Linked DNA regions of Homo sapiens. The protein of the gene in region 3 interacts with the protein of the main gene of each other region in a biochemical or structural test. Each region holds a gene or a part of one and is shown on either strand. Other genes may lie near its edges.

What was found.
Region 1: the proteins of GSK3B (region 3) and TNFAIP3 form a complex in vitro, tested with the Homo sapiens proteins (one study listed by BioGRID).
Region 2: of the proteins of GSK3B (region 3) and STAT2, one has a biochemical effect on the other in vitro, tested with the Homo sapiens proteins (one study listed by BioGRID).
Region 4: of the proteins of GSK3B (region 3) and MAP3K4, one has a biochemical effect on the other in vitro, tested with the Homo sapiens proteins (one study listed by BioGRID).
Region 5: of the proteins of GSK3B (region 3) and PTPN1, one has a biochemical effect on the other in vitro, tested with the Homo sapiens proteins (one study listed by BioGRID and IntAct).
Region 6: the proteins of GSK3B (region 3) and SNCA form a complex in vitro, tested with the Homo sapiens proteins (one study listed by BioGRID and IntAct).
Region 7: of the proteins of GSK3B (region 3) and DEAF1, one has a biochemical effect on the other in vitro, tested with the Homo sapiens proteins (one large-scale study listed by BioGRID).

Annotation. Positions count from the first base shown.
Region 1 is NC_000006.12:137,873,759-137,877,258, forward strand, and holds part of TNFAIP3 (tumor necrosis factor alpha-induced protein 3), read left to right. Parts: intron 1-1,086; coding exon 1,087-1,277; intron 1,278-1,929; coding exon 1,930-2,077; intron 2,078-2,237; coding exon 2,238-2,408; intron 2,409-3,317; coding exon 3,318-3,498; intron 3,499-3,500. UniProt on the Homo sapiens protein: Ubiquitin-editing enzyme that contains both ubiquitin ligase and deubiquitinase activities.
Region 2 is NC_000012.12:56,350,108-56,353,607, forward strand, and holds part of STAT2 (signal transducer and activator of transcription 2), read right to left. Parts: intron 1,344-3,500; coding exon 1,185-1,343; intron 1,084-1,184; coding exon 991-1,083; intron 782-990; coding exon 722-781; intron 326-721; coding exon 305-325; intron 84-304; coding exon 1-83. UniProt on the Homo sapiens protein: Signal transducer and activator of transcription that mediates signaling by type I interferons (IFN-alpha and IFN-beta).
Region 3 is NC_000003.12:119,909,448-119,912,947, reverse strand, and holds part of GSK3B (glycogen synthase kinase-3 beta), read left to right. Parts: intron 1-137; coding exon 138-244; intron 245-3,500. UniProt on the Homo sapiens protein: Constitutively active protein kinase that acts as a negative regulator in the hormonal control of glucose homeostasis, Wnt signaling and regulation of transcription factors and microtubules, by phosphorylating and inactivating glycogen synthase (GYS1 or GYS2), EIF2B, CTNNB1/beta-catenin, APC, AXIN1, DPYSL2/CRMP2, JUN, NFATC1/NFATC, MAPT/TAU and MACF1.
Region 4 is NC_000006.12:161,047,269-161,050,768, reverse strand, and holds part of MAP3K4 (mitogen-activated protein kinase kinase kinase 4), read right to left. Parts: intron 2,154-3,500; coding exon 790-2,153; intron 1-789. UniProt on the Homo sapiens protein: Component of a protein kinase signal transduction cascade. Activates the CSBP2, P38 and JNK MAPK pathways, but not the ERK pathway. Specifically phosphorylates and activates MAP2K4 and MAP2K6.
Region 5 is NC_000020.11:50,569,383-50,572,882, reverse strand, and holds part of PTPN1 (tyrosine-protein phosphatase non-receptor type 1), read right to left. Parts: intron 1-3,500. UniProt on the Homo sapiens protein: Tyrosine-protein phosphatase which acts as a regulator of endoplasmic reticulum unfolded protein response. Mediates dephosphorylation of EIF2AK3/PERK; inactivating the protein kinase activity of EIF2AK3/PERK.
Region 6 is NC_000004.12:89,723,599-89,726,380, reverse strand, and holds the end of SNCA (alpha-synuclein), read left to right. Parts: 3' UTR 1-2,282; downstream 2,283-2,782. UniProt on the Homo sapiens protein: Neuronal protein that plays several roles in synaptic activity such as regulation of synaptic vesicle trafficking and subsequent neurotransmitter release.
Region 7 is NC_000011.10:688,723-692,222, forward strand, and holds part of DEAF1 (deformed epidermal autoregulatory factor 1 homolog), read right to left. Parts: intron 2,877-3,500; coding exon 2,779-2,876; intron 1-2,778. UniProt on the Homo sapiens protein: Transcription factor that binds to sequence with multiple copies of 5'-TTC[CG]G-3' present in its own promoter and that of the HNRPA2B1 gene. Down-regulates transcription of these genes.

The DNA.
Region 1 (3,500 bases), on a different chromosome or scaffold from region 3:
AGCTAGTTTTTCTAAATGTATACATTGAAGGAATACTGGCTGTGGAAGTATATTTGAGGGTTTTTTGGTTTCTTTACAGTTTGACTGTAATTACAATTTGATAAAATTTCAAATAGCTCTATTGCCCTACTTATAGAGTAATGTAAGAAACAATGTAACTTTTCATTATAAAAATTATTTTGCACTTGCCAAAGGAGATTAAGGAGTTAACTTTTTTTGTTTTAAACATTCCCCCAAAATATTTATCGTTTGGGGGTTGAAAAAAATGCAGCCCATTGAATTGTGAGTTTTAAACTGGAAAGGTCACAGATTAATGGCATACAATTAAACCTGTTTTTTTGTTTGTTTTTCTTCTCAAAATGTTAGCCCTAAACACTGAATTATTTTCAAATTTAGACACCCAGGTGCTTTTTAACTTTTGTACTTTACAGTTACTAACAAGCAGGTTTGCATAAGGCATTTTTGAGAGCCGGACTAGCAGGCCATAGGTAATTCCGTGTTGTCAATACGACTTTCCACACCAGGAGAGGAAACTCCCAGGGCCCAAAGGCTAAAGTGGAATGGTCAAGTCATTTGCCATTGAGTCATAGCCAGACCATCCCTATCTAGCAAGCCATGCCTGCTTCCTGGTTTGTGCATGTTGCCCTGTGTGCTCCTCCTTAGAACTAGAGAGCAGCAATGCCAGTGCCTTCACCAGCAAATCAAGGGATGGTAGGAAGGGATAGGGCTTTAGAGATCATCACTTACTGCCCTCATTTCACAAGAGGAAAAATGCCCAGTGAACTTAAGGAATTTCCTCCAGGTCACCTAAACTAGTTAGGAGCAGACTTAAGCTAGAACCAAGGTCCCCTGGCTCCTTTGCAGTTGGTGTCATTCATTAAAAAGAAGAATAAAAAGAACTCTTTTTTTCTTAAAGCTGTCATCATCTTGTGAAATATCAGTTTGCCCTTGACTAGGAAATTACATCAAATTAAACCATTCAGTCCCCTAGAATAGCAGTAGGGCTGGTTTATTCTGAAAACCTTTGCTGGGTCTTACATGCAGATAACTTGACTTTCCTTCTCTTCTCCTCCTTTCTGTCCTCAGGTGACGGCAATTGCCTCATGCATGCCACTTCTCAGTACATGTGGGGCGTTCAGGACACAGACTTGGTACTGAGGAAGGCGCTGTTCAGCACGCTCAAGGAAACAGACACACGCAACTTTAAATTCCGCTGGCAACTGGAGTCTCTCAAATCTCAGGAATTTGTTGAAACGGGGCTTTGCTATGATACTCGGGTAGGTTTTTCCCCCTAATTATCTACTAACAGAGCTCCATGGTGGGCATAGGGTACCCCTGGGCGAGTCCCTGCCCTCTGGTAGCATCTGATGGACTAGGTCACATGAATTTGGCTAAGCGAAGCATACTCAATGGAAAACACCAGAAACCTCCAGTGGGACTCACCCAAGGCTTTTGCCCTGCTTTTGGTTAGCAGATTCCCAGCTGTGGATCCGTTCCTGTAGCAGCGAGTCTTTTGATCATGGCCTTTTCCACTGGTGTTTTGTTGTTTTTCAGTTTGATTGCCCTTAGCTTTGCTGAGCCAGCCAGTAAGATTAAGACACGTGCCTCACCATCCTCAGTCACAAGTTTGGAATTTTTGTGAACATTTGGATAAGGGGCTGCAATATGATACCTCATCAGGGATTTTTTTTTAAAGCAGGTGCTGTCCCCGTCCTCCCCAACTTTTGAGTTTGCCTTGTAGTGGAAAAAAGTAAAGGAAGAAAACCGAAATGGGGAAAAAAGGGTGATCATTTGAATGATGGTTTCATGAAAGGGGAAAAAATAAGCTGAGTTATATAAATGAATAATTGTAGAGTGATGTCAGAATGACTTTTTAGTACAGGGAGTACAGGATACATTCAAGCTTTTTTTTCACCCCGCTCCCCTTAGAACTGGAATGATGAATGGGACAATCTTATCAAAATGGCTTCCACAGACACACCCATGGCCCGAAGTGGACTTCAGTACAACTCACTGGAAGAAATACACATATTTGTCCTTTGCAACATCCTCAGAAGGCCAATCATTGTCATTTCAGGTGAGATGCCTGCAGATCACGGATCTGTACTTAAATGCTTTCAGCCTTATGCCTTGGCTCCTGGAGAAAACCACACTGCCAAAGTTCAGGTAACAGAGTTCAATGGAATTTGATGAAAGTCACCTAAGGGCCTCATTTTCCTTTCTCTTTCTTTGAACAGACAAAATGCTAAGAAGTTTGGAATCAGGTTCCAATTTCGCCCCTTTGAAAGTGGGTGGAATTTACTTGCCTCTCCACTGGCCTGCCCAGGAATGCTACAGATACCCCATTGTTCTCGGCTATGACAGCCATCATTTTGTACCCTTGGTGACCCTGAAGGACAGTGGGCCTGGTGAGAAAACTGCATTAATTCACATCTATAACTAGACACTGAAACATCAGGGTTTTCCTTTTTGCTTCTTATTAAAACAGTCTTATTTAAGTATATTATTTTTATTTAAATATATTGTTCTGTGACTTGCTTGGTTAGTAAGAGTAATGCAGTAGCAGTAATCATAATACCCTCATATCTTTTTGAATATGACTTGGAAAGTACTTTCATACATGATAAATTAAGGCGCACAGTGCTCTTAATACAGTGCCTGGTATGGAGCAAGTAAACGCCTGTCAGGTTAGTTTTTTTCTTTTTGAGACAGGGTTTCCCTCCATTGTCCAGGCTGGAGTGCAGTGGCACAATCATGGCTCATTGCAGCCTCCACCCCCTGGGCTCAAGCAGTCTCTCGCTTTGGCCTCTCAAATTTACAGGCACGAGCCACCATGCCTGGCCTGTTAGCTGTTATTTTAATAGCCTCATGTGGAATAAGCACTGTGCTTTGGAAATATTATTTTACTGCATTTTTATCCTTTTAGCACTCTTGTGAGATGTAGGCCTTGGTAGCCTTATTTTACATATTAGACAGTTAAAGCTCAGAGAGGTCAACTAACCTGCCTAATGCCACACAGCTTGATAGTGACAAAGCCAGGATTCAAACTCAGGTCAGTCTGATTCTAAAGCCTGGGACTTTAACCAATAAGATCCACCACCTCCAGGCTGGTTAATGTTATGTGAGTTTCCTGGAAACAGTGCATTTTTATATTAGATTGTAGCACATTTTGTTTTCCCATTTGGGTTTAACTGTGGCTAAGAATACTTTTCTATTCTGTAAGTTATATCTTTTATACATTTTCAAAATGAGATCTACTTACCTATGGCCTTGTTTAGTAGAATACTGTTTTACTTATGTATTATTTTTTTCCTTAGAAATCCGAGCTGTTCCACTTGTTAACAGAGACCGGGGAAGATTTGAAGACTTAAAAGTTCACTTTTTGACAGATCCTGAAAATGAGATGAAGGAGAAGCTCTTAAAAGAGTACTTAATGGTGATAGAAATCCCCGTCCAAGGCTGGGACCATGGCACAACTCATCTCATCAATGCCGCAAAGT
Region 2 (3,500 bases), on a different chromosome or scaffold from region 3:
AGTCCCAAATCAAACCCTGACTCTGCCCCTTCTCGGGGGTCAAAGTTTTCTGGTTTGAAGTCAGAATGTTGAACTTCCGGAAGCTGTTCCAGGAGGAAGATACATGGAGACAAGGAATGGAATTATTCTAAAAACTCAGCAGAAAAAAAAAAACAGAAGTTCCACTTCATTTCAGATCTCGCCATCTCCCTTTGTCCATATCCCAAATCCCCCTCTTCCTTGTTTGTGCCACCAGGGCTGCCGAATGTGGTTCTGCAGGTCATACACTGTACAGATGTTTGCAGTGTCCTTGTCAAGCACCTACCCTTGTAATTGAGGAGGATTCCTGAAAAGAAATAAATTTAAAAAAATCATTGGGCAAAAGAGTATGGAAGTTAGGAGTTTCGTCTTTGGGATCAGACAGACCTCGGTTCAAACCCGACTTGAGCTCACTAGCTATGTGGCCTTGAGAAGAGATGTAATCAGTCTCTCTAAGCCTGTATCTTTGTTTGTACAGTGCACTGGTAATAGTTTATTCATGGGGTTGGTGTGACAATTAAATGAGTAGCTGACATGCTGCATGTCACAAAGTAAGTGTTCAACAAAAGAAATGAATTATAATTTCTGTGAGGTAGGATTGGAAGGAGGAAGGAGATAGCCCTAGGGCCCTGTTGTGAAGAGTGAGTATCTCCTCCACCCCAGCAGCCCGTGTCCTGGCCACCCTTCACCTGCTCCAATTTACCTGTCAATGGAGACTTCCACAGTCAGTGACTCATTGCCTTCCTGGAGTCTCACCAGCAGCCTGGGGGAAGGAAGGGGGATAGGGGAAAGTGGTCAACCTCAACCTTCCGGATAGACTAGATGTTTGAAAAAGAGAAGAGGGATTATAAGAGGTAGGGAGATTGCAGGGAAAGAGAAGAAAAAGCCAAGAGTGGGAAGAGCTGTAAAGCCAGAAAATACACAGTGGCAGGGTTGGAAAAAGGAAGTGGGAATGAGTTCTGGAATGCCAACCTTGTTCGGACGGTGAACTTGCTGCCAGTCTTGAGGATGAGGGGTCGATGGGGAGTTTGGGGCATGCAGGGCTGGGTTTCTACCACAAAGGCTCTGAGGAGAGAGAGGTGTGGAGAGAATATATAGCTCAGTATCTGTAAGAATGGCTTCCCTTGTTCCTTCTTTCCCCCAGGGTTCCTGCCTGGCCTCTAGACCTGTGGAGCAGACGCTGTAGCAACTCTGTGACCTGGGCGTTGCGTAGGTCCACCCCTTTGGTCAGAGGGTCATCCTGATAGCTAACCAGGCAACTCAGTCCCTTCAGCTCCTTCAGCAGCTGCCTCAGGTGAAACAACAGCTTTGCTCCAGCTGTGAACCTGGGTGATAAAATTCAGGAAGAAGGAATCCATGAGTTTCCTGGATTCCCCCATCCAGGTTCCAAGATCTCTCTGTAAATATGTGAAGAGTCAGAAACTGACTGGGGGGAAGAAAAAAAAAGAATCCAGGAAGCATATAAAGGATTATTCAACATGATTCATAATCCAAGAAATGAAAATCAAAGCTATTTTCACATATAAAACTGCTAATAGATTTAACATAACAGTTTTCATATGCTATGTACAACTTATATTAAGCCCTTTCCACATATTAATGCATTTAATCCTCAAAACAACCCTCTGAGGCAGGTACTATTATTTTCCCCACATTACAGATGATAAAACTGAGGCACAGAAAGGTTAAGTGACTTGCTTAAGGTCATACAACTAGTAAGGGATGAAGCTTGTATGTGATCCCAGGCAGTCTCATTGTACAACTCACACTTTGTTTTTTTTTTTTAGACAGTCTCACTCTCTTGTCATCCAGGCTGGAGTGCAATGGTGTGATCTTGGCTCACTGCAACCTCCACCTCCTGGATTCAAGAGATTCTCCTGCCTTGGCCTCCCGAGTAGCTGGGATTACAGGTATGTGCCACCACGCCCGGCTAACTTATATATATATATTTTTAGTAGAGACGGGGTTTTGCCATGTTGGCCAAGCTGGTCTTGAACTCCTGACCTCAGGTGATCCGCCCACCTTGGCCTCCCAAAGTGCTGGGATTACAGGTGTGAGCCACTGCACCCAGCCCCAACTCACATTTTTAACTACTGTACTTTACTGTCTCTATAATTAAAAATAATAATAATCAGCAATGTGGTGACAGGAAAACAACCATACACTACACATGAGAAAATAGATTCGATTGGGACAACTATTCTGGGAAACATTTGTAACTATCTTTTTTTTTTTTTTTTTTTTTTGGTGGGGGTGGGGGTGGGGGTGGTTTCTGGCAAAAACCTGAAAGCCTGCTAGACAAATCCTAAAAGAGCTGTAACACTTGGAACTATCTTTTAAAAAGCCTCGCCAGCTGACATGGTGGCTCACACCTGTAATCTCAGCACTTTGGGAAGCAAAGGTGGGCAGATCACTTAAGGCCAGGCACTCCAGCCTGGGAGACAGAGAGAGACCCTGTCTCAATCAATCAATCAATCAATCAATCAATGCATGCATGCATGCATGCTGGTCCTGTACCATAAGTACTATATGCCTGTTTTTCAATCTACCTGAGCAATTGTGGTATTTTTTTAATCTACTTTTTTTTTTTTTAAGAGGTGAGGGTCTTGCTATATTGCTCAGGCTGACATCAAACTCCTGGACTCAAGCACTCTTTCTGCCTCAGCCTCCTCAGTAGCTGGGTATTATGGTATGTGTACATATATACTTTTAGAGACAGGGTCTCGTTCTGTTGTCCAGGCTGGACTACAGTGGTATAATCATGGCTCACTGCAGCCTCCAACACCTGGGCTCAAGCAATCCTCCCACCTCAGCCTCCTGAGTAGCTAGGGACTACAGGCGTGTGCCACCATGCCTAATCTTTTTTTTTTTTTTTTGAGACGGAGTCTCGCTCTGTCACCCAGGCTGGAGTACAGTGGCATGATCACAGCTCACTGCAACCTCTGCCTCCCGAGTTCAAGTGATTTTCCTGCCTTAGCCTCCTGAGTAGCTGGGAATACAGGCATGCGCCACCACACCTGGCAAATTTTTGTATTTTTAGTAGAGATGGGGTTTCACCACATTGGCCAGGCTGGTCTTGAACTCCTGACCTCAAGTGATCCACCCACCTTGGCCTCCCACAGTGCTGGCCACATGTGTGAGCCACTGTGTCCGGACATGCCTAATTAAAAAACAAATTTTTTTTTTTTGTAGAGATGGGGTCTTGTTATGTTTCCCGGGCTGGTCTCAAACCCCAAGACTGAAGTGATCCTCCTGCCTCAGCCTTCCAAAGTACTAGGATAACAGGCATGAGACGCCATGCCTGGCCTGGTATATTTCTAAAAGACTAAATTATAATAAATTTTTAAATGAGAAAATATTGAAAACAGTAGGTATTTTTCAAGTATGTTGGAGGACACACTAGTGATTTTTCTACAACACAATATAATTACCATAAAATATAGCGTTTCCTGGAAAAAGGTAACAAGAAATTGAAAATAACC
Region 3 (3,500 bases):
ATTTTCTTTTTCATATATGATTCAAATGATGTGAATCTTATAAAATCATTTGATACTGTGAAAGGATAGCAGTCTAAGTTCTTTAAGGTTTAGATTTAAAGAATTTCTGCTTTTTATTTTTATTTTTTTTCTGTTAGTGCAAAGCAGCTGGTCCGAGGAGAACCCAATGTTTCGTATATCTGTTCTCGGTACTATAGGGCACCAGAGTTGATCTTTGGAGCCACTGATTATACCTCTAGTATAGGTAAGTACAAATCTGAATATAATGCTCATAATTATTAATTGCTTCTTGATTTTGGTAATTTAGTACTACTAATCTGTACTTTTATTTCCATGGAAAGATGGATATATCCCATAATGTTTTTTTTCTTAAAGCTTGAGATGCAAACATGTATAGGCATACCTCATTTTATTATACTTTCCAGGCACTGCTTTTTTTTTTTTAACCTCTCAAAGGTTTGTGTCAACCCTGAGTCAAGCAAGTCTGCCCACACTAGTTTTATAAGAGCATGTGCTCACTTCATGTCTTTGTGTCATCATGTCTTTGTGTCACATTTTGGTAATTATTGCAACATTTCAAACATTCTCATTGTATCTGCTATGGTGATCTATGATCAGTGGTCTTTGATGTTACTATTGTAATTGTTTTGGTTTGCCACAAACCACAACAATATAAGACAGCAAACTTAATCGATCGGTGTTGTGTATGTTATGAATATTCCACCAGCTGGCCATTCCCCATCTCTCTTCCTATCCTCAGGCCTCCCTATTCCCTGAGAGACAACAATATTGAAATTAGGCCAATTAATAACTCTGCAGTTGCCTCTAAGTGTTCAAGTGAAAGGTACATTTTTCACTTTTAATCAAAAGCTAGAAATGATTAAGCTGAGCAAGGAAGGCATATCGAAATTGTGCCACACAGTTAGCCAAGTTGTGACCAGAAAGGAAAAGTTCTTAAAGGAAATTAAAGTGCTACTCCAATGAACAGATGAATGATAAGAAAGTGAAACAGCCTTATTGCTGTTACAGGGAAAGTTTTAGTGGTTTGGATAGATCAAACCAACCACAACATTCACTTGAGCCAAAGCCTAACCCAGCAAGGCCTGAACTCCCTTCAATTCTGTGAAGACAGAGAGGTGAGGAAGCTACACAAGAAAAATCTGAAGGTAGCAGAGGTTATTTCATGAGGATTAAGGGTAAAAAGCTGCACCATGCCATAAAAGTGCAAGGCAAGCAGCAAGTGCTGATGTAGAAGCTGCAGCAAGTTATCCAGAAGATCTAACTAAGATCATCGATGAAGGTGGCTACATTAAACATCAGAGTTTTAATGGAGACCAAATAGCCTTCTACTGAATTGGAAGAAGATACCGTTTAGGACTTTCATCTCTAGATTTTCTAGAGATGGAAGACTTCTTCTAGAGAGGAGAAGTGTCATTGCCTGGCTTCAAAGCTTCTAAGGACAGGTTGACTCTCTTGTGAGGGCCTAATGTAGCTGGTGACTTTTAAGTGCAAGCCACTGCTCATTTACCATTCCAGAAATCCTAGGGCCCTTAAGAATGATGCTGAATGTATTCTGCCTGTGCTGCATAAATGGAGCAACAATGAGTGGATGATAGCACATCTGTTTATAGCATGGTTCACTGAATATTTGAAGCCCACTGCTGAGACCTACTACTCCAGAGAAGAGTATTTCTTTCAAAATATTACTGCTTATGGACAGTGCAACTGGTCACCCAAAGGTTGAGAAATACATTTGTAAGGCTATAGCTGCCCTAGATAGTGATTAGTCTGATGGATCTGGGCAAAGTCAATTTTAAATCTTCTGGAAAGGATTCACCATTCTAGGTGTCACTAAGAACATTTGTGACTCAATCACATGAACAACATTTTGGAAGAAGTTGATTCCAAGCCTCATGGGTGACCTTGAGGCATTCTAGACTTCAGTGAAGGAAGTCTCTGCAGATGTTGTGGAACTAGCAAGAGAACTAGAATTAGAAGTGGAGCCTGAAGATGTGACTGAACTGCTGCAATCTCATGATGAAACATAAACAAGTTGCTTCTTTTATGGATGAGCAAAGAAAGTGGTTTCTTGAGGTGGAATCTACTAGTGGTTAAGACGCTGTGAATATTGTTGAAATGACAACAAAGGATTTAGAATATTACATAATTGTAGTTGATAAAGCAGCAGCAGGGGTTGAGAGGACTGACTCCCATTTTGAAAGTGGTTCTAATGTGGGTAAAATGCTATCAAAGAGCATCTCCTACTAGAGAAAAATCTTTCATGAAGGGAAGAGTCAGTTGATGTGGCAAACTTCATTGTCACTTTAAGAAATTACTCCAGCCACATCGTATAGCCTTCAGCAACTGCCACCCTGATCAGTCAGCAGCCATCGACATCAAGGCAAGACCCTCTGCCAGCAAAAAGATTACAACTCACTGAAGGCTTAGATGATCATTAGCATTTTTTTTTAGTAATAAAGTGTGTTTAAGTTAATGTATTACATTTATGTTTTTATACAATTCTATTATACAAGTAATAGACTACAGTATAGAGTGAACATACCTTTTATATGCACTGGGATACCAGAAAATTGGTGAGACTTGCTTTATTGTGTCTTATTGTTATGGTCTGGAACCAGTTCTGCAACATCTCTGACGTATGCCTGTATAGAATTTTTCAAATTCTACTTTTTAGAATTTAAGGTATACCTACTATTCTATTTTTCTTCCTTGGACTGTTAGAATCATAAAGCTAATAGCTTTTACCTTAAGAATTTAAATTAATTCTAAGTAACTTTTTTTTACTTTCTTATTTAAAATCCTCCTGAAATACTTCTGAGCATGATTATACTAGTTGGATAATTTATTAATTAATGTTATTTCATTAAGTTAATAATGAAAGTGATAGTATGGCCATATTGCTAACATTTCCTTCATGCCATCTCCATTATTTAATATAAAATCAGCTTAAATCACTAGTAGTTTTGCTAGATGCACTGATTCTGCAGAAGTATGCACCCAAGATGTTTAGTCATAGAAGGAACTGAATAGAGACCATTAGCTTTAATCATCATTGACCTTCTCAAGTCTTCACCCCAGATGTTTAGTGATAGGAGGAACTGAATAGAGACCATTAGCTTTAATCATCATTGACCTTCTCAAGTCTTCACCCCAGATGTTTAGTGATAGGAGGAACTGAATAGAGACCATTAGCTTTAATCATCATTGACCTTCTCAAGTCTTCACCCAAGATGTTTAGTGATAGAAGGAACTGAATAGAGACCATTAGCTTTAATCATCATTGACCTTCTCAAGTCGTCACCCAAGATGTTTAGTGATAGAAGGAACTGAATAGAGACCATTAGCTTTAATCATTATTGACCTTCTCTTTTACTACATCTTAGCCCACTAGCCAGGAGTGAACAGAGAGAGCATGATCAGCTGGACATGAATAGGAAGCTAACAAACAAGGAGCAACTTTAAGCTGGATGTGCAAGTGG
Region 4 (3,500 bases), on a different chromosome or scaffold from region 3:
AGCAAAATCACTTGTACAGTACTATTTTGGACTCTCAAGAATGATATCCCACAAAATGCCCTTGTCTAGTATTACCACCCTTTACAATAAGGAATTTATAACACGTCAAGCTATCAAAAGCAAATCTATACTGTTTTCAAGTCACTTCCTCTAGTGGGCACATTCCTCTCACAAAAATCTACACATATCGAAACACATATCTGACAAAAATCAGGACTTCCCTTAAACTTTCATCACCTGCACCGAACACTTTAACCTTGCGAGATAGTGTTGGCTTTTTCCCCTTGATCATTCTGACATTTCTCTATAATTTACATCTCTTTAAAATACAGTGACCAAAACTTGACATGCTAATCAAAAGAGAGAAAACAACTTCAAAGGATAGAGAAAGAACTCTCTCCTTGACCTTGGGCGCCCTATTCATTTATAAACACCTGAGTGTGACGTGGACTTTTTTCCTGACTCACATGCAGCTTGTGGTCATCCATGACTATGGCTTTCTTCCTTCCATTTTTGTTTATACCCAGCCTGTCCTTTGCCATCCTGTATTTACGTGGTTGAACTTATTCCCTCCACATACCACCCTGCACTTAATTCACTAAATTTCATGCAGTTTTCATAGATCTATTTAATCATAGTACTTTACAGAAATGCTTAAATGTGCAATTTATAACTGCCATTTGTGTTCAAAAATATTAGAATATGAAAGTACATAACACCAACATTATAATTTGCAATAAATAAATGGAACTAAGGATATCATTGTATTAATACCTACTGGAAACCTACCTCCACTGGACGATCGTTCTTTACCAATGCTATACGTGCCCTTTGCAAGGAACCATCCATTAGCTTGTGAAGTCTTAAAATTAACTTTCTTAACCCCATCTGCTTCAGTGCTTTGTCTACAAATGGTCTATAAATAGAAGTCAGACAATGTCTACTAAAGCCTGCTTCTGTGCTCCAGTCTGGTGCTCCCCAGCCAAGAGAATCATCCTCAGATTCGAGCCTCTCAAGCTTCTTGGATATGCAGTCCCGCGACTGGATGTCGAAGCTGTTATCTATGGGCTGTCTGATTTCCGGTACCCTAGGATCAGAGATTTGTTCTTCTTCACTCTCATCCGTACTACTTTCCAACTCCTTTAATTCTCCTTCTGTGTCATCACCCTCATACTCCGGCTCATTACCTTTGGATGGTCGAGGGGAAGGGATTTCAAACACTGGCCAGCCAATGTCTGATAAATTCTTGATGCCCAAAACAGTGCCCATAATCCTTAATTTCTGATTTAAGTCTTTTGTGATGTTTAACCACAAACAGAGTGCCTGCACCCTGTCCTGGAAGTCTTTTGCAGCATATTTTTCATAGTCCTTCTGAAGAGCCTGCAATGATGGATAAAGTGCTTCTATGTACTCTAGCAGCTCCATTATCCGTTTTACCTGCTCAAATGAGACCCTCTGGCGTTGGAGATGCTCATGATGTGTTGAGTAACCTACAATCTTTGTTCCAGGAGTGGCTTTGCACTGCCCTTCTACTGAAGTACCATTAAAACCAGCTCTATCTCTAACAAAGGCGAAGCTCCCATAGTCGACTTTGAAAGTAAGGATTTCATTAATAATATCTGGGATGGCTTGACGGGCTGTATATAAAAAGAAGTCCTGGTCGTTAATTGTCCGTCCTGCATGCCAGGCTTGTAGCTCTAACCAGATCAGTTCGTTAGATCGGTTAAGCCAGAAACCAGACGTATTTTCTTGTCCTCTTTGCTCCCTGTCTTTTTTCTTTGAGACTGAGGTAAGCTTTAGCAAAAGTCGTAAAGTTTCAAAAAACTTTAAACGATCTGCTGGACAGTCAGTCCTAGAAGTCTGGCGTGCAGGTCTGGCTATAGGCATGGGCACAGATACTGGAAGCTTAGCATTGCTACAGCCAAGGCTGAGGTAAGGCTTATTGAGATCCACATCTGGAATTGATTTTTTTGGCAAAGATCCACCCACTGAGTCTAACATGAATGAGCACTGTACATTTTTTTTACGATCACGCTCTGTTGTTCTAAGAGCTGCTCGGATCTTTTTCTCCTGCTTATAGCTGTATTCTTCCACATTCTCCACTGTTTTTCCAGTGTCTTTATGTGGAGGCTGATTTGGTGCATTCATTTTTTCTATTAAAAAAAAAAATAAACAGAACATTATATAACTCTAAAATATGAAGCTACTCTCAATATTTTCAATAAAACTGGTATTCACACATATTTATATTTTCAGACTGCTAATGGAAGAAAAAAAAGCATACCATATCCTAAAAATTAAAGGAATCAAAAAATATATATGACATTTTCTATATTTTAAAAAAAATTATCCATTTTTCCAGTATTTGCTGTATTCTCTTATATTCACAACTAATTACCTAAACTAGCTGTTTATTTCTCTCTATGCTACAAAGCATAGTTATCAAATCATTTAACCAAATTTCCGTAAGTAATCACCTTCAATTTAAGGAGGAAGAAACAGCATGGGAGATCTGACGGACACCTGGATGAGAAAATATATTTAATTCCTGCATTTGTCATTAGCTAAATGTGTAAACTTAAGAGGAAATCACGTAAATTATCTGGATTACTTTTCTCATTGATAAAATTAGGCACATTGATGCAAGAATACTTAAGGCACCCTAAGATTATTCTCATAAAAAACTGAAAGACAGTTGACAGACAAAAACACTGACGTTAGTTTATTCTATTCCTTTATTTCTCCTTTGCCACAAACAAGTGGGCAATAACATTTTAAATTTAAAATTAGCAAGACTGAAGACATATAGACTAATTTGGTATAATTTGCTTAGTATGTTATACTGCCATGTAAAATCATTTACAATTAATGCGAAAAAAGCAAAAACCACCCACTTCCTTCAAACATCTAGAAGAGGTTCTATAATCTGATTCCAAGCTTTAAAATGAACACACATACATCCTGTATGGCACTTTTAACACTATTAATTGCTCTACGTTACTGAAATCCTTTCATTCTGTTGCTTCTGGGTTCTTACACTTCCTTAAGTTAGTCCCTTCTTTTCAAATACCTCCTTGGAGCTTTGCTCACTACATAAAATGTTAATGTTTCTCCAAGTGCTAATCTTAGATCTCTTCTCCCTGGGTGATCTCATTCATTTCCACATCATATATCGATAATGCCCAAACCTATAACGCCATCTCAATCTACCCTCTACACTCAAGGCATAGTTTATTTCATTGAATCTAGGACACACATTTTTTCATACATTAACATCTCTGAAATTAGAACGTTATATATAATCAATGATGATATAAGTAAGTTTTAGGGACATATTTGCCAATATTTTTCATTTACATTTTTCTTTTTTTCTGAGACAGGCTGGAGTGCAGCCTCAACTTCCTGGGCTCGAGTGATCCTCCCGCCTCAGCCTCCCAAGTAGCTAGAACCACAGGCACGCATCACCACACCCAGCTAATTTTTTTTTTTGGGTAGAGACA
Region 5 (3,500 bases), on a different chromosome or scaffold from region 3:
ACCATTGAAGCAATTCTGCCACTTGGCATGGAGGCGCTAATTACATGGCAAGACCCCCACTTAGCCAAAGTGGGTGTGGCAGCTAAAAGCAGGAACTTAGAAGAATGTGAAAAGATGAATTAATCCCACACTTCTAACAACTAGATCTTATAATGCCTCAAGACCCCAGAAACAAGAGACTGATCTGACAGGTTCCACCCCACCCGTGCTGGGGTGGGCATTCCACAGAGTGAGCAGACAGAGAAGGAAGCGAAGAACAGAAATGCAGGAGGAAGAGGCCACCCTTCCTCATCTCATAAGCAGGGCAGACGAGTCTTAAAGCTCACCTCCAGACAGCAAGCACTCACTTTCAAAACCAAACCTAATGCTTAATAACCCTCTGTAATCTGGGTAAAGACTAAGACTTTGGAACTGTACAAGTGAGGAATTCTGTCATGCAACTAAGTGTCAATAACCCAATATTTATTTTTAAGGACTCTCAGGTGTCTACAGCAACAAGCTATGCTCTGTCATTTCCAATAGAAATTTTTGTTTTAAACACACAAAATTTTTAAAAGGCACAAGATCACATTTCCAGTTACCCTATTACATTGATATATACGGCCATGAAAAGTAGATGGATTTTTATTAGAACACAGTACTTCACCAGGCCTCAAATTGAGTCCTATCTTGGGCTGGTACCAGAGGAACATGGCAGTGCCAACATGCTAGCATCTCTCATAGTTGCTGTTTCCACCATGAAGGCAGATGTTAAACAGTCCTTGGGGCCTTCCCAAACAAGTGGGCAAGTGGTGTTTGGAAAACCTATGAAAGACATCTACAGTAACCCTGTGACGGGTAATTTGGTTTCGCCAAAAATTATTAACACAGAGAACTAAGTAAGTAATTCTTAACACAGAGAACTAAGTACGAGAGAAAAATGAATTATATGGACCCTGTGATACAAAATGCAGTGTCTTGTGCATGAAAGCACCTGAAAGCAAACGGCAGCTTTAGTGAGGATTTCAGGAGGGAGATACGGGTGAGATTCTGCAATGGCCAATTAAACTCACCTTGCTTACTTCCCCCTTCTAAACAACAATCCCAACCCTTACGCCATGGTGCAGCCTACACTGAGGTGTCTAAAGTCAATCCTTAAACAGAACCAGTGAGAACTCTAGCCATCTGGATGACCCCAGTCTAACACACACAATCATCTTCTGCATAACTGGTTTCCAGGAAGCCCAGGGTCCCAAAAGATAACAGGCATGTTTGCCAAAAATAAGAGGGAGCATCCTACACTATTTGGTGAAGGAAGGAAATCAGAAGACAAGTATGCATTAAATGAAAACTCCCCAAAAGCTGGTTTTACCACAAGCTGTGTGGATCATTTATAATTAGATTAGCTGAGCAAATAAGATACTGTAACTTCTCATGATTTCTCCCAGCCAGCCCTCTGGGAGGGATAATGCTGATACAGAATTGAAAATGTTGATCCCAAAGAAACTTTAACAATCTCAAACCATACATTGCTTTTCATGCCAATCTGCACGCCCAAGTAATCCTCCAGTGGAATGGGATACTTAACAAAGGAAAGCAGGGACTGCTGGCACAGTTATCACAGTAAACTACAGCAAAGCCAACCAGCCATGTTCTCGATGCCACCACAGTAACCCAAAGGGAAAGGTTGTCACAGTGGATCTGTGGGCCATTTGTGGTCAGTCTTGAGTGGGAGACAATGAAGCACAGGGCCTGGTGAGGCTGGAACACATAACTACAGCACTGGACACTGCTCAAATACATAACTACAGCGCTGGACACCACTCCTTGCTGTAATGTGACAACAATTGCTAAAGCAAACCTTGTGCTCACAGCAAAGAGGTTTTGCCAAACACTTAGCAACAAAGAAATAAATAAGAAGCAAATGCTACTATATCTGGTAATTTCTGAATAAATGTCTTGATTTAAAATTCCCAACCCTCAATACCATCTAGAGCGGTGGTTCTCAACCGGGGGCAATTTGGCCTACCAGGGGACGTTGGACAAAGTCTGGAGTCTAGACAGAAACACATCTGACTGCCACATCTGGGGAGGGGGTGCTACTGGCATCTGGTGGATAGAGGCCAGAGATGCTGCTAAACTTCCTACAGCGCCCAGCACAGCCACTCCCTGCCCGGATCCCTAGCAGACAATGATCCAGCCCAAGTGTCAGTAGTGCTGAGGGTCAGAAGCCTGCAGATGGAGCTATGCTGAAGGCTTCCACAGGCCACCAGGCTTCCCCTTCCCTCTAAGACAGTGTGTGCTGTGAGCACCTGATGCTTTGTTTCTTTACTCAAAATTGCTGACTAGTGGTGAAGGGTGGGGGTTTGCTTCACATTTGTAACTTCACATTTTACTAATCAAGCTACTAAGGAGGGAAGAAAAAATTTAAAAACCACCTTTCACTGAAAAAGTTTTTTTCTAAGACAAGATACATTATATCATCAACAGAACACTTAGGCAAGCTCCCTGTCTGTTATTGTTGGGCAAATAAACACTTTCATTTTTTAAAAAGTAGGCAAGGGTAAAAAACCCCCAAAAAACCCCAACCCCAAAACAAAACAAACCAAACCCCTATGATTTTAAACACGCGCTGTCCTAAGAGGAAGACTTTCTGCGAGTAACTAAAGCCGTTTCTTTGTGTGTGGTGGAGGCAGAGGCTTCGTGGTTAATGCTTCAAGTTTTCACTGCTGAAGTTTCCTTTGATGTGTTCCTTCTTAACACTTGGATTTTTTACATTCTAGGGCCATGACTGTGCTTTTTTTGGAAAGGTGGCCTCTCTGGAGCCCTCACCTTCTTCTGTGGCCGGAGGCAACCAGGACAGCTGTGAGAGCCGTGTCCTAGCTGAGCCTGGACCTGGCAAGGCCCAAGGACACCCAGTTCCCTGCTCCTGGGCCACACGCTCCTGCTGGTCTCCACGATCCTCAGCCCATCTCCTCCTGGACCCCGCAGCAGGGTTGGCAGTGTTGGGGAGCAGCGAGGGCAGGGAGGCCGAGGAGCCTGTGGCCCTGCTGAACACTGGCCTGCGCCTGCACAGGCAGATGGTCTAAATGGGATGGTCTACACAGGATGGTCTACACAGACAATCTACACAGGACGGTCTACAGAGACAGTCTACACAGGACAGTCTATACACGACGGTCTACAGAGACAGTCTACACAGGACAGTCTATACACGACGGTCTACAGAGACAGTCTACACAGACAATCTACACAGGACAGTCTACACAGGACAGTCTACACAGACAATCTACACAGGACAGTTTACATGGACAGTCTACACAGGACAGTCTACACAGACAATCTACACAGGACAGTCTACACAGACAATCTACACAGGACAGTCTACACAGGACAGTCTACACAGGAGGCCGGCTGCCCAGAAATCGGCTATTCTCAGCTATTCCAACAGAGTGAGGAGGGCAGGGGAGAATGCAGGCAGTTGGGGAGCTGGGGGCAGCCGTCCAGGGGTGCCTGCAAGT
Region 6 (2,782 bases), on a different chromosome or scaffold from region 3:
CGATGTTAAAACAAATTAAAAACACCTAAGTGACTACCACTTATTTCTAAATCCTCACTATTTTTTTGTTGCTGTTGTTCAGAAGTTGTTAGTGATTTGCTATCATATATTATAAGATTTTTAGGTGTCTTTTAATGATACTGTCTAAGAATAATGACGTATTGTGAAATTTGTTAATATATATAATACTTAAAAATATGTGAGCATGAAACTATGCACCTATAAATACTAAATATGAAATTTTACCATTTTGCGATGTGTTTTATTCACTTGTGTTTGTATATAAATGGTGAGAATTAAAATAAAACGTTATCTCATTGCAAAAATATTTTATTTTTATCCCATCTCACTTTAATAATAAAAATCATGCTTATAAGCAACATGAATTAAGAACTGACACAAAGGACAAAAATATAAAGTTATTAATAGCCATTTGAAGAAGGAGGAATTTTAGAAGAGGTAGAGAAAATGGAACATTAACCCTACACTCGGAATTCCCTGAAGCAACACTGCCAGAAGTGTGTTTTGGTATGCACTGGTTCCTTAAGTGGCTGTGATTAATTATTGAAAGTGGGGTGTTGAAGACCCCAACTACTATTGTAGAGTGGTCTATTTCTCCCTTCAATCCTGTCAATGTTTGCTTTACGTATTTTGGGGAACTGTTGTTTGATGTGTATGTGTTTATAATTGTTATACATTTTTAATTGAGCCTTTTATTAACATATATTGTTATTTTTGTCTCGAAATAATTTTTTAGTTAAAATCTATTTTGTCTGATATTGGTGTGAATGCTGTACCTTTCTGACAATAAATAATATTCGACCATGAATAAAAAAAAAAAAAAAGTGGGTTCCCGGGAACTAAGCAGTGTAGAAGATGATTTTGACTACACCCTCCTTAGAGAGCCATAAGACACATTAGCACATATTAGCACATTCAAGGCTCTGAGAGAATGTGGTTAACTTTGTTTAACTCAGCATTCCTCACTTTTTTTTTTTAATCATCAGAAATTCTCTCTCTCTCTCTCTCTTTTTCTCTCGCTCTCTTTTTTTTTTTTTTTTTACAGGAAATGCCTTTAAACATCGTTGGAACTACCAGAGTCACCTTAAAGGAGATCAATTCTCTAGACTGATAAAAATTTCATGGCCTCCTTTAAATGTTGCCAAATATATGAATTCTAGGATTTTTCCTTAGGAAAGGTTTTTCTCTTTCAGGGAAGATCTATTAACTCCCCATGGGTGCTGAAAATAAACTTGATGGTGAAAAACTCTGTATAAATTAATTTAAAAATTATTTGGTTTCTCTTTTTAATTATTCTGGGGCATAGTCATTTCTAAAAGTCACTAGTAGAAAGTATAATTTCAAGACAGAATATTCTAGACATGCTAGCAGTTTATATGTATTCATGAGTAATGTGATATATATTGGGCGCTGGTGAGGAAGGAAGGAGGAATGAGTGACTATAAGGATGGTTACCATAGAAACTTCCTTTTTTACCTAATTGAAGAGAGACTACTACAGAGTGCTAAGCTGCATGTGTCATCTTACACTAGAGAGAAATGGTAAGTTTCTTGTTTTATTTAAGTTATGTTTAAGCAAGGAAAGGATTTGTTATTGAACAGTATATTTCAGGAAGGTTAGAAAGTGGCGGTTAGGATATATTTTAAATCTACCTAAAGCAGCATATTTTAAAAATTTAAAAGTATTGGTATTAAATTAAGAAATAGAGGACAGAACTAGACTGATAGCAGTGACCTAGAACAATTTGAGATTAGGAAAGTTGTGACCATGAATTTAAGGATTTATGTGGATACAAATTCTCCTTTAAAGTGTTTCTTCCCTTAATATTTATCTGACGGTAATTTTTGAGCAGTGAATTACTTTATATATCTTAATAGTTTATTTGGGACCAAACACTTAAACAAAAAGTTCTTTAAGTCATATAAGCCTTTTCAGGAAGCTTGTCTCATATTCACTCCCGAGACATTCACCTGCCAAGTGGCCTGAGGATCAATCCAGTCCTAGGTTTATTTTGCAGACTTACATTCTCCCAAGTTATTCAGCCTCATATGACTCCACGGTCGGCTTTACCAAAACAGTTCAGAGTGCACTTTGGCACACAATTGGGAACAGAACAATCTAATGTGTGGTTTGGTATTCCAAGTGGGGTCTTTTTCAGAATCTCTGCACTAGTGTGAGATGCAAACATGTTTCCTCATCTTTCTGGCTTATCCAGTATGTAGCTATTTGTGACATAATAAATATATACATATATGAAAATATGTATTTGGTTTCTGCCTCCAGTTCTTACAAAGAGCTCCTAAAACCCTTGTAATTTCCTGAGTAGTAGGGGTGCTAGGGTCATCTTTTGTTCTAATATTTGGTCTTTGACTCTGCTTTCTGACAGAGCTCCTTAGTCCCTGGGTGAGAGTAGCATCTTCTCTTCTAATGAAGTGACTCTTGCTGGGTTCCTGGATGGGGGCTGGTCACCAGAAAGGTCAAGCCATGATAAGAAGCTTGAAGCTTTTGGCCCCATTCACATCTTCTGGGGACGGGAGAGAAGAGGAGCTGGAGATTGAGTTAATAAGCAACAATGCTTCCATGATGAAGACTCCATAAAAATCCCTAAAAGACAGGATTCAGAGTGCTTTGAAATAGGTGAACATGCAGAGGTGCTGGGAATTGTGGTGTGTCCAGAGAAGGCATGCAAGCTCCCCACGCCTCCCCCATACCTTTCCCTGTGCATCTCTTCCATCTGGCTGTTCCTGAGTTGTATCCTTTT
Region 7 (3,500 bases), on a different chromosome or scaffold from region 3:
CTCCACAAACAAGAAACACCCTCCCTTCCACCTGAGCCGCTCCCACAAGGTCACCGTCTTCATGCAGAGTTTCCAACAGACCGAGTTGGCCGCCACAGACAAGGCCTTGTGCAGGACCGCCCTCCAGACCTCCTTACAGATGGCAACTGGAGACCAGGGCCTCAAAACCACATTTCCACACTGGCTGAAGCTGCTGCAACTGCTGCCTGCTTCCAAAATCAGCCTTCAGGCGGCACAGACCCCGCCACAGGAAGCCAGAGTCTCCATGCCCACACACCACTGCTGGAACTTGAACCCTACCTTGGCCAAGTCATCCGGCAAACTCTGGCCTGCAGGCTCTGTTCACCCCACGGTGGGGCAGACCAGAGACTTCCAGGGGCCTCTCTGAACCCCGTGTTTTGGGTGCCCCAAGGTTTTCATTCTGAATACAAAACCAACCGAGGCAAAGTGAGAAAACAACTGTTTCTTTTTTTCTTTTTCTTTTTTTTTTTTTTTTTTTTTGAGACGGAGACTCGTTCTGTCACCCAGGCTGGAGTGCAGTGGCGCCATCTCGGCTCACTGCAAGCTCCGCCTCCCGGGTTCACGCTATTGTCCTGCCTCAGCCTCCTAAGTAGCTGGGACTACACACGCCCACCACCACACCAGGCTAATTTTTTGCATTTTTTTTTTTAGTAGAGATGGGGTTTCACCGTGTTAGCCAGGATGGTCTCCATCTTCTGACCTCATGATCTGCCCATCTCGGCCTCCCAGAGTGCTGGGATTACAGGCAGGAGCCACCGCGCCCAGCTGACAACTGTTTCCTACATCTGAAAATGTCACTGTCAAATCAGAGCACTTGAGTAGAAGTTTATCATGGAGTGGAGGGACCCCCAACACACATGCCTGACGCCTGGGCTCACACAGGGGGTCCTACTGCTGTGCCTGAGTCACCAAAGACCTGCAGCTCTTCACTGGAGAAAAGGAATGTCTTGTGTTTGTTTAAGAGTCACAGAGTATTTTTCTTAGGAAGGGAACACACAGTTATTTCAGACCGTGCCCCGCTTTGTTGTCAGTTTCCAAACAGGAACACACCAGTCTCTGGTCTTCCTGGCCTGGAGGGGAGAAAACCAGCCTCAGGCACTTGCAGGACACCCCCGCTCCATGACGTCAGCACGTTCCAGGCACCCACAGGTGCCTTGGGCTTCAGCCCCTCCTAGGAAATGAGGAGGTGCCCAGACCCCACTGCCAGGAAGGAGCAGCCTGACTGAAAACACAGATCGCCACGTGGCCATGGGTCAGCTTGTGTGTGTTCTCACACCCACCAGAAATAAGCCAAGTTTCTGGGCTGGGTGCGGTGGCTCATGCCTGTAATCCCAGCACATTGGGAGGCCGAGATGGTAGCTACCTGAGGTCAGGAGTTTGAGACTACCTGGACAACATGGGGAACCCAGGAGGTGGAGGTTGCAGTGAGTTGAGATCACTCCACTGCACTCCAGTTTGGGCAACAGAGAAAGACTCTGTCAAAAAGGAAGGGGAGGGGAGGGGAGAGGAGGGGAGGGGAGGGCAGGGCAGGGGAGGGCAGGGGAGGGCAGGGGAGGGGAGGGGAGGAGAGGGCAGGGGAGGGCAGGGGAGGGGAGGGCAGGGGAGGGGAGGGCAGGGGAGGGGAGGGCAGGGGAGGGGGTTTCCAAGTTTCTTATGTTTTTACTGAAGTCCTTCACAAGTTTTCTGTTTGCTGCCATTCTAACAATAACTGTGCTTTCAGGCCGGGTGTGGTGGCTCACACCTATAATCCTTATAATCCCAGCACTTTGGGAGGTCAAGGCGGGCACCTGAGGTCAGGAGTTTGAGGCCAGCCTGGACAACATGGTGACCTGTCTCTACTAAAAATACAAAAATTAGCCTGGCATGGTGGCACACGCCTGTAATCCCAGCTACTCAGGAGGCTGAGGCACAAGAATGGCTTGAACCCAGGAGGCGGAGGTTGCAATGAGCCGAGATTGCACCACTGCACTCCAGTCTAGGTGACAGAGCAAGACCCCGTCTCAAAAACAAAACAAACAAATAACCACTCTGCTTTCAGGTATATGGAGATGATGTCCCAGGTATGTGACCAAGGCTGAAAAGACTACAAGTAACAGGTGCCAATGGTCCCAGGGAAAATCCCTTTCTGGAGACTGGACCCACCCTGGCATCTGCCACTTGGAAACAAGGTTGCCTGCCCTGGTTGACCAGATGTCCCCAGATCGCCGAAGGCCCCACACATAAAACATAAAATAAGCTGATAAAACATGATCACAAAAGGGCTCTGAAGGTGGCACAGACACTATTTGAAATGCAACTGGCTTTCAGCAGTTTTCTAAGTAGACAGCAGTCAGGCGTGGGAGACTGCACCATAAATGCTACGAGAACAGGATATGGGGGAGGGAAACGCCTTGCTTCTTTCAGCTGGCCCTGCAGCTATAGGATAAGGAGCACAGGCAGGGCCGGGCCTCGGGCAGAGGCTGAACTGTGGCCGGACAGCAGCCTGCTGGGAGTCCCTGCCCAACGCAGGCCACAAGCCCATCTGACAGGTGTGGCTCTTCACCTGGCCTTCCGAGGCAGCTTCTACCTCAGCTGTAATTTCTCCCACCTCCAGCACAGCCCGAAGGCCTCTGAGAGCAGAGCGAGCCAGTGCGTCCCTCCCCAGCTCACAGAGCAGACGTTCACACAGCGGGCTGAACCCCGGGAGAGCCTCGGGGAAGCCGGAGGCCCCCAGCGTGGCACCACCCGCCCTGGGCTGTGCCCCTCGGAGCAGCTTACCAGAACATGTCCTGAGATGGATGCCGCGTTCGCCACAGACGTGGTGAAGACATTGTCTGCAGCAGCCCCCACGTTGGCCACTGTCACTGTGGTCACCTCTGCAACAGAAGGAGCCTCATTTAACAAGCAACAAAAGCCAGAATGGACAAAGCGAACAGCCTCGCTCAGGTGCTTCAAACAAAGTGACTCCCCCTCAGGTGTGTGCCCTTGTAACCAGGAAGATCTTAACACTTCCATGAACACGCTCGACCTACATTTCTATTCCATTGTCTAAGTCATTCGGCTCTTCCAGGAAAAAGAGAGGAAATCTATTCTTCCCCAGTAAAGCCTTTTACGTGCAGTAAAAAATGCATACAACAAACCCGCCACCCCAGCCAGCCCCAGCTCTATCAAACCACCACGGGGCTTCTATCTCCTTCTGCGGCACAGCTGTGGGTTCTGCTGGTCAGGTGTGCCCTATGCCTACGAGGAGCTCTCGGCCTCCCCGCAGGTGAGGACACCTCCTGGACCCACTCTTGTAGCTCCATTCCTGCCTCTCCTCCACCGCAGGGGTCAGGCCACCATCGTCAGGTGACCTCGGCCCCATGCTCACAGCCATTGCCCTTGGTCTCTGACCCCTTCCTCCTAAAAAGTACATCTAACCTGCCTATGTCCCTTGGTGCCACCCCACCGCACCCCCTACAACATGGAACTCAGCCCCCTGGCATGCAGACAGGCCCTTC